Homo sapiens: one gene and its partner. The protein of the gene in region 2 interacts with the protein of the main gene of each other region in a pairwise test. Each region holds a gene or a part of one and is shown on either strand. Other genes may lie near its edges.

Evidence for each region.
Region 1: the proteins of NCK1 (region 2) and MEPE interact in binary tests that used the Homo sapiens proteins (3 or more experiments, as listed by UniProt).

What each region holds. Positions count from the first base shown.
Region 1 is NC_000004.12:87,831,509-87,835,768, forward strand, and holds the start of MEPE (matrix extracellular phosphoglycoprotein isoform a precursor), read left to right. Parts: upstream 1-1,460; 5' UTR 1,461-1,506; intron 1,507-3,194; 5' UTR 3,195-3,206; coding exon 3,207-3,260; intron 3,261-4,260. UniProt on the Homo sapiens protein: Promotes renal phosphate excretion and inhibits intestinal phosphate absorption. Promotes bone mineralization by osteoblasts and cartilage mineralization by chondrocytes.
Region 2 is NC_000003.12:136,868,708-136,872,207, forward strand, and holds part of NCK1 (SH2/SH3 adapter protein NCK1), read left to right. Parts: intron 1-3,500. UniProt on the Homo sapiens protein: Adapter protein which associates with tyrosine-phosphorylated growth factor receptors, such as KDR and PDGFRB, or their cellular substrates. Maintains low levels of EIF2S1 phosphorylation by promoting its dephosphorylation by PP1.

The DNA of each region.
Region 1 (4,260 bases), on a different chromosome or scaffold from region 2:
GTCTCATCATCCCTTCTGCCGCACTCAGGTTCAAGCCTCCATCATCTCTGGCTGGGATTATTACAAGAGCTTCCTAGCCATTCTCTCTGCCTTTTTCCTACTTCAGTCACTCCTCAATCATGCCTGTGCTTAAAACCTCCAAGGACTTTTCTTCTCACTCATAGCAATGTCAAAAGCATTGCAATGACCTACAGGTCCTATACCATCTGCCATCTAATACCCTTCTGACCTCATTTGTTGCTATTCCCCTTGCTCAGGCCTCCAACCAAAGTGGCCTCTTCTCTGTTCCTGGAACAAGTCACAAGGCTTTTATTTCTGGGGCACTATTTTTCTTATTTCTTCTTCCTGGAATGGTCTTCCCATAGACAGTCATATGGCTGCAGGCTTATCTGAGTCTGTTCATGCTGCTACTACAGAATACCACAGACTGGGTAATTTATAAAAAACAGAAATTTATTTCACACAGTTCTGGAGGCTGGGAATTCCGCAATGAAGAGGCCAGCATGTTCATTGCCTGACGAGGGCTGTCTATCTCTTCTTCCAATTTGGCACCTTGCTACTGCATCTCCAGAGGGGACAAATGCTGTGTCTTCACACTGCAGACAAGCAGAAGGGCAAAAAGGGACTAGCTAGTTTCTTCTTGCCCTTTTATAAGGTCATTAATCCCATTCATACTGGGGTCTGCCTTCATGACTTAATCACCTTCTAAAGAGCCCATCTCTCAATACTGTCACCTTGGGTTTAAGTTCTAACATGGGAATTTTGGAGGGACACGTACATTGAAACCATAACAAGGTCTTTACTCAAAAGTTGCCTTCTCATTGAGGCCTTCCCAGGACTTCCTATCTAAAATTTCAACCCAGTGTCCCCACCCCCAATGCTTGTTACTCCCCAACAATACTTTTTCTCCTTAGACTTAGTATATGTCACTATCTAATCTATTTAACTCATTTATCTTGTTTATTATCTGTCTCCCTTATTGGATTCTAAGCTCCAGGAAGACAGGGATTTTTTTCTGTCTTGTTTTGTTCACTGCAGTTTCGCCAATGCCTGTCACACAGTAGGCACCTAAAACATTTTTGTTAAATGTTGCTGAATTTCACTTAGATAAAATTGACATCATAAACTTTCTACATAAAAGGATAGCAAAAATGTTTTCCATTTCTAAACTTGTTAGGTATTCAGTCAGTCCTAATTAGCAGTTCTGAAATCAATTTTGATTATCTGACAACATGATGTCCAAACTGAGGTATTTATATTTTCTGTTTATCCCACTTTCTGGAACATTTGATAGTAGCTTTCTACCACAAACACATTTTTAGATTAAAATTACTTCACCCCCTATGGTTATCTGTGGGCGCTTGTAACAAATTGTTTGCTAGCGCTGAGTGAGCCAGTGCTGATTGGCCATTGGGAACTCTAACAAACTTTAAATTTCAGCAAAATGCCCAGAGACTTCTAATCCTGCAACAAGAAGCCAGGTATTCTGAAGGTGAAAGATACCAGGTAATTTGGCTTTCATGTTCTTGACAGCAAATAGCTTTATATCATAGTTGTTTACGTTTTTAAGATGCTTGCCACCCAAGTATGGTTTTATTACTTTTGAAAATCTTCTCTACTGAGCAAAACTGTGTAATATTTGGTGCTTTGTTTTATAAAATAGGAAATGCGTTACCATGCTCTAGAAATCATCAACTAAAATTGATGATTTGATAGCAACTTTCTCTTTTTTTTTGTTATTAGCATTATCAAGATCCACAGTAACTCAGACTTCAGTTTTCTTCTATCCCTTCACTTAACAAACTGCAATCAGGAAAATCTGATCTTATTCATACTTTGAAACCTCATCTGTGTTGATATTTCTACTGATGAGCATTAACTCATTTCATAAGTTACTTACGTTGTCCTGATCTATAAAATGCTTGGAAGGGTAAACTATAGTTAGAATTTAGATCCTTCTAATTGCATTAATTTAGAAAAACATAGCCTAGGATTTTAGAATATATTTAATAGTTACAATCATTTCTCCAAATACCAGCTTTTCCTTGAGGTGTTTAAAGATTGCAAGAATATTTAGATTATTTTTTCCCATAAAAACAAGTTTTTCTTCAAGAAATCTCAGAGTGGCATAAATTTATTGTTTTCACAATATAATAATAAGATCAATAGTCCAAAGACATGTTGACTTTTTTCCAATCTAATGGCTACTTAAGTGAGCTCACTAGTTCCTGTTGGTATATTTACCAAAATATAAACAAATACCTTTATTTGTAACTAAATGTTAGTATTTTGAACATCATTTTGTTGAGCCCAATATAAAATATGATTTGCCTTTAAGTCAACTGTACATGGATTTTTCTGTAATAAGATAAAAGAATAGAAAGTTATTTAAGGTGGCAGAGAGTCTTGATGAAGAAAACTGGGTCTAGAGCCACATTGCCTGGATACTAATCCCAGTTCTGCCCCTTAATATTTGTGAATTCTAAAGCAAGTTATTTGATCTTTTTGTGTCTATTTCCTAATCTATACAACAGGCATAGTAACGCCGCCTAACTTGTAGGGTTGTTGTGAGGCTCAAATAATTGAATGCATGCAAAATTCTTAGACCCAGTGCTTGGCTCATTTTAGTATTCAATAAATGTTAGCCATTAATGTCAGTGTTGCAAAAATTAGTTCACTCTCCAGCCCATGGATGGCTACTAATTCAGACACATTGCTAATGAACATGAGACACAGATTAGGGCACCAGCCCGGAGGCAGATAAGCTTTCCTCACAGTGCAATCTGCTACCCTGACAAACTTAGAGTGTGTTATGAGCTGCTACATCAACTTAATGTCATTTTGAATTACACAAATAATTAAACAATCTCTTTCTAAAGACAAGAGGAAGAAGAGCTGATGATAGAGCAAATAAATGTGTCTATAAAATATATTTCTATCAACTGACTTTACTGTTTTAATGATATTGAATAATTTTCATTTTCACATTGGAATAACTAGACATATGAAAGTTCTTAAAATGTCCACACTCGGGTATAAGCAAGTTATACATAGTCTATACACACACATACACAAAAGGATATGAACTGCCAAGGGGAAGGGTGTTTATATATTCCTATGTGTTTTATCTCTTCTTATGGCTGCAGTTTATAACTGGCAATGCTTTGTGGTAAGATATTGTTGTCTTTTTACAGAGATTCTCAAAGATGCGAGTTTTCTGTGTGGGACTACTCCTTTTCAGTGTGACCTGGGCAGCACCAGTAAGTATTTACAAATTCAATTATATTTCAGATAATCTCTTGCTCTCTTCATTTGTTTTTCTTTCAAGCAACGTCTATTTAAATTAGTAGCATCTACCTAATTCAGTTATTTTAAAAAGAACCAAGCAAACAGAAAGCATCTAGCACTTAACACTCTTAACAAAGGAGGTTCTCAATAAACATGTGCTGAATTATGAGATCTGACAACATTGTCTTTTAAGGAACACCAAAAACAGATTTTTTGAGAAAACCAAGAGGCAGCCGCAGCATTTCAAATCAGCTGATACTAATGAGTGATACTCAAAGACTCAAATTATAACATGGTAAAATAATCTTTGACTATTTTCCTGTAAACTTAAAGAATTTGACATGAATGTTTTAAAGCTAACCAGCTAGATTTAGTAAATAGATAAAAATGCAAAGAGACAAGAACTCTTCTGTATTTCTTGCAACACCCCAATACTGTGGGATCCTACTTGTGATTTTCTCTTCATCAGCGAGGCTAGAGGTGGGACGTAGTACCTCCAAGCTTAACCCAAATCAAGCTCCTACTTCCTTGTGTGTCTTTTCTTCCCTCTGACTCACCCAGTTGAATATTCAGGATGTGACCAAATTATCTTGTGAAAATGCTGAGTGTTAGTTATTTTCTGCAATGCAGACACAGTGCTAATTAGATAATGTCTGAGCAGCATCCTAACTTATCAGAATAACCTTTTTGGTTGGAGAACCATGGAAACAAATAGTCATCCCATTGCCAATCATACTTATATATAGGTCCTGAGTGAGTGGGTGACTGCTAGGGTAACCAGGCTGATGAGGATGACCAGGGAAGCAGAGGGCCTCATGGAGGGCAGTGGAAGTTGGGGAAATGTGTTCCCTTCTCCGCACACACTCTGTGCAACAAGGGTGTGCAGTACAGTACTGTGGAGGCTGTACTGCTCACAACACACATTTGCGAGACCCCATGCACAGACCTCACTCAATCAAGGCCTAGAGGCTC
Region 2 (3,500 bases):
CGAATCTCTTGATAATGCCAATTAATCTTTGGAGGCCTTGAATGTGGATACAGAACAATGTAATGATTTAGAGGAAACCTGGAGGGCTTATCATATAACTAAATGCAGTGATCTAGCTGTAATGTTCTTTTTCTCTTTTGAGTGTTAGAACTGTAACACCTTCACATTTTGCTACTTTTTGTCCTCTTGTTCATCTGTCAGGAACCATCACTTCTTGTTGAGCAAGACAAGACAAAATATCTTGTTGAGGCCGGGCGCGGTGGCTCACGTCTGTAATCCCAGCACTTTGGGAGGCTGAGGCATGCGGAGCCCCTGAGTCCAGGAGTTTGAGACCAGCCTGGCCGGCATGGTGAAACCCCATCTCTACTAAAGATATAAAAAAATGAGCCCACTGTGGTGGTGCATGCCTGTAGTCCCAGCTACCCGGGAGGCAGAGGCAGGAGAATGGCTTGAACCCCAGAGGCAGAGGTTACAGTGAGCCAAGATCATGCCATTCCACTCCGGCCTGGGTAACAGAGCAAGACTCTGTCTCAAAAAAAAAAAAATTTTATTTGTTCCGCTAGGCCTGATGGCTCACTCCTGTAATCCCAGCGCTTTGGGAGGCTGAGGTGGGCGGATAACTTGATCCCAGGAGTTCGAGACCAGCTTGGCCAACATGGTGAAACCCTGTCTCTACTAAATACAAAAATTAGCTGAGTGTGATGGCGAATGCCTGTAATCTCAGCTACTCAAGAGGTTGAGACAGGAGAATCACTTAAACCCGGGAGGCAGGGGTTGCGGGGTTGTGAGATCCCGCCACTGCACTTTAGCCTGGGTGACAGAGCGAGATTGTCTCAAAAGAAAAAAAAGAAAGAAAGAAAAATCATTTGTTCCATTTGGTGAGTTAGAGTGCTTTTATATGTTTGTTCTTCATGTTTATTTTTCCTCTTAACTCTAAAGTTTCTGTAACAGAAACCATGTATGGTTGCTTTCGTATTTTTCTTATGTGTACGTAACAATAGTTGAATGCTGTAAGACAGCATAGAAGACTATCAGGTAAAATCTCTCTGTGGAGGGAAAGGAATGCTTATTCTCTTGGTCTGTTTTTCATTTATTTTTTGGTTGTTAATAGTTGCTTTTTCTATTTGTTTAAATTATCAGTTAAAAAAACCTGTTAAAACACTGATTCTCTTGTTTCTATTCCTGAAATTGTAAGTAATGATTGCTGAATTGGACATGAATATGGTATGGATAATTTTTGCTTTTGTTCAAACAGCCAGTTGAATAAAACAAGCAGTGAAAATATGTGGAAATATTTAAAAGAATGGATGTTTCTCAAAAGTTTTTTTTTTTTTTTTTTTTTTAAAAGAATCATCCTGGCCCAGCGCAGTGGCTCATGCCTGTAATCCCATTGGGAGGCCGAGGCAGGTGGATCGCTTGAGGTCAGGAGTTCGAGACCAGCCTGGCCAACATGGTGAAACCCTGTCTCTACTAATAATACAAAATTTAGCTGGGCGTGGTGGTGCATGCCTGTAATCCCAGCTACTTGGGAGGCTGCTGCAGGAGAATCATTTGAACCCAGGAGCCAGAGGTTGCAGTGAGCCGAGATCATGCCACTGCACTCCAGCCTGGGTGACAAGGAGAGACTTAATCTCAAAAAAAAAAAAATTCATCCTTTTCTTCCAAAAATTTTAGCACGTATTTTCATATGTTAGTGTGTAGATCAATTCAAATAATAGATACAACAAATACTGTAATATGTTGTGTACCTTGTAATTATTCCAGCTGTATCGCAGAAATATTTTATAAATTTAATAGGGCTGGGCAGTTTTTTTTGGAAATGCTTGATCATTTGCAAGTACTACATGCTCTTGAATAATATATTTTCATTTTTAGAAACATTTAGAATATTTAGTGTACAACCCCTGTCTCCCAGTAATTCTGCTGCCCAAGGAAATCAGTTACTTTATTTTTTCTTTTCATTTCTTAGCTATAGTCTTTAAAAAAAAAAAAAAAAAAAAGGCCTGTGAGGTCTTGCATGATTTGGCTTTTGTCTACGTCTCACTTCATCTCTTGCTTTTGTCTCTTTCCTCTTTCAGCCTTGAATAGCTTAGCCCTTTTTTGCTTTGGTGTCTGTGATCATGCTCTTCCTCAGGGCAGATGGCTCCTTTAGGTTAATCAGCATTAAGTTTGGCTACTAGTATCAGACAGATGCCAAATATTAATTTCTCTCACACCAGAGAAATCCAGGGTTGGCATGGCATTCATTTATTAAATGTTATTTCCAGGTGTGTGTATGTGTTTTGCTATTGTAAATTCTGCAATAAAGATCTTTGTGTATAAGGCTTTACATTTTTTTTCCTTTTGATTAATTCCTGTTGTGGATCCAACTAAAAAGCTTACTAATTTTTTTTTAAAAAATTGTTTAGTCTGGGCATGGTGGCTTATGCTTGTAATCCTGCACTTTGGGAGGCTGAGGTGGGAGGATGCCTTGAGGGTAGGAGTTAGAGATCAGCCTGGGCAATATAGCAAGAGCCGGCCTTTACAAAAGTAAAAAAAAAAAATTAGCCAGGTTTGGCTGTGAGCGTCTGTAGTCCTAGCTACTTGCAAGGCTGGCGGGAGGATTGCTTGAGTCCAAGAGGTCGAGGCTGCAGTGAGCTATGATCGCGCCACTGTACTCTAGCTTGGGGGACAGAGCGAGACGCTGTCTAAAAAAAACAAAATTAAAAATTTGTTTAGAGAAAGTATCTTTAAATGTTTATTGAAAACTGCACAAATTTAAATGTATAGAATGTTTATATTTGTAGATATCTGTGTAGTCATCACTCAAATCCAGATGTGGAACATTTTTAGTGTTCGAAAAGGCTCTCTTGCGCCCCCTCCAATCAGTGTCTCTTTCCCTCTCAAAGGTAATCACTATTCTGTCCTCTATCGCCATAAACTATTTTTGCCTGTTTTTGAACTTTATATAAATGTAACTGATATGGTTTGGCTGTGTCCCCACTCAAATCTCATCTTGAATTGTTACTCCCACAATTCCCACGTGTGGTTGGCAGAACCTGGTGGGAGGTAATTGAACCATGGGGGTGGGCCTTTCTCGTGCTGTTCTTGTGATAGTGAATAGGTCTTGTGGGATCTGATGGTTTTAAAAACGGGAGTTTCCCTGCACAAACTCTCTTCTCTTATCTGCCGCCATGTGAGAAGACATGCCTTTAACCTTGTGCCATGATTGTGAGGCCTCTCCTGCCATGTGGAACTGTAAGCCCATTAAACCTCTTTATTTTGTAAATTGCCCAGTCTCAGGTATGTCTTTATCAGCAGCATGAAAACAGATTAATACAGTAAATTGGTACCAGTAGAGTAGAGTGCTCCTGAAAAGATACCCGAAAATGTGGAAGCAACTTTGGAACTGGGTAACAGGCAGAGGTTGGAACAGTTTGAAGGGATCAGAAGAGGACAGGAAAATGTGGGAAAGTTTGGAACTTTCTAGACTTGTTGAATGACTTTGCCCAAAATGCTGA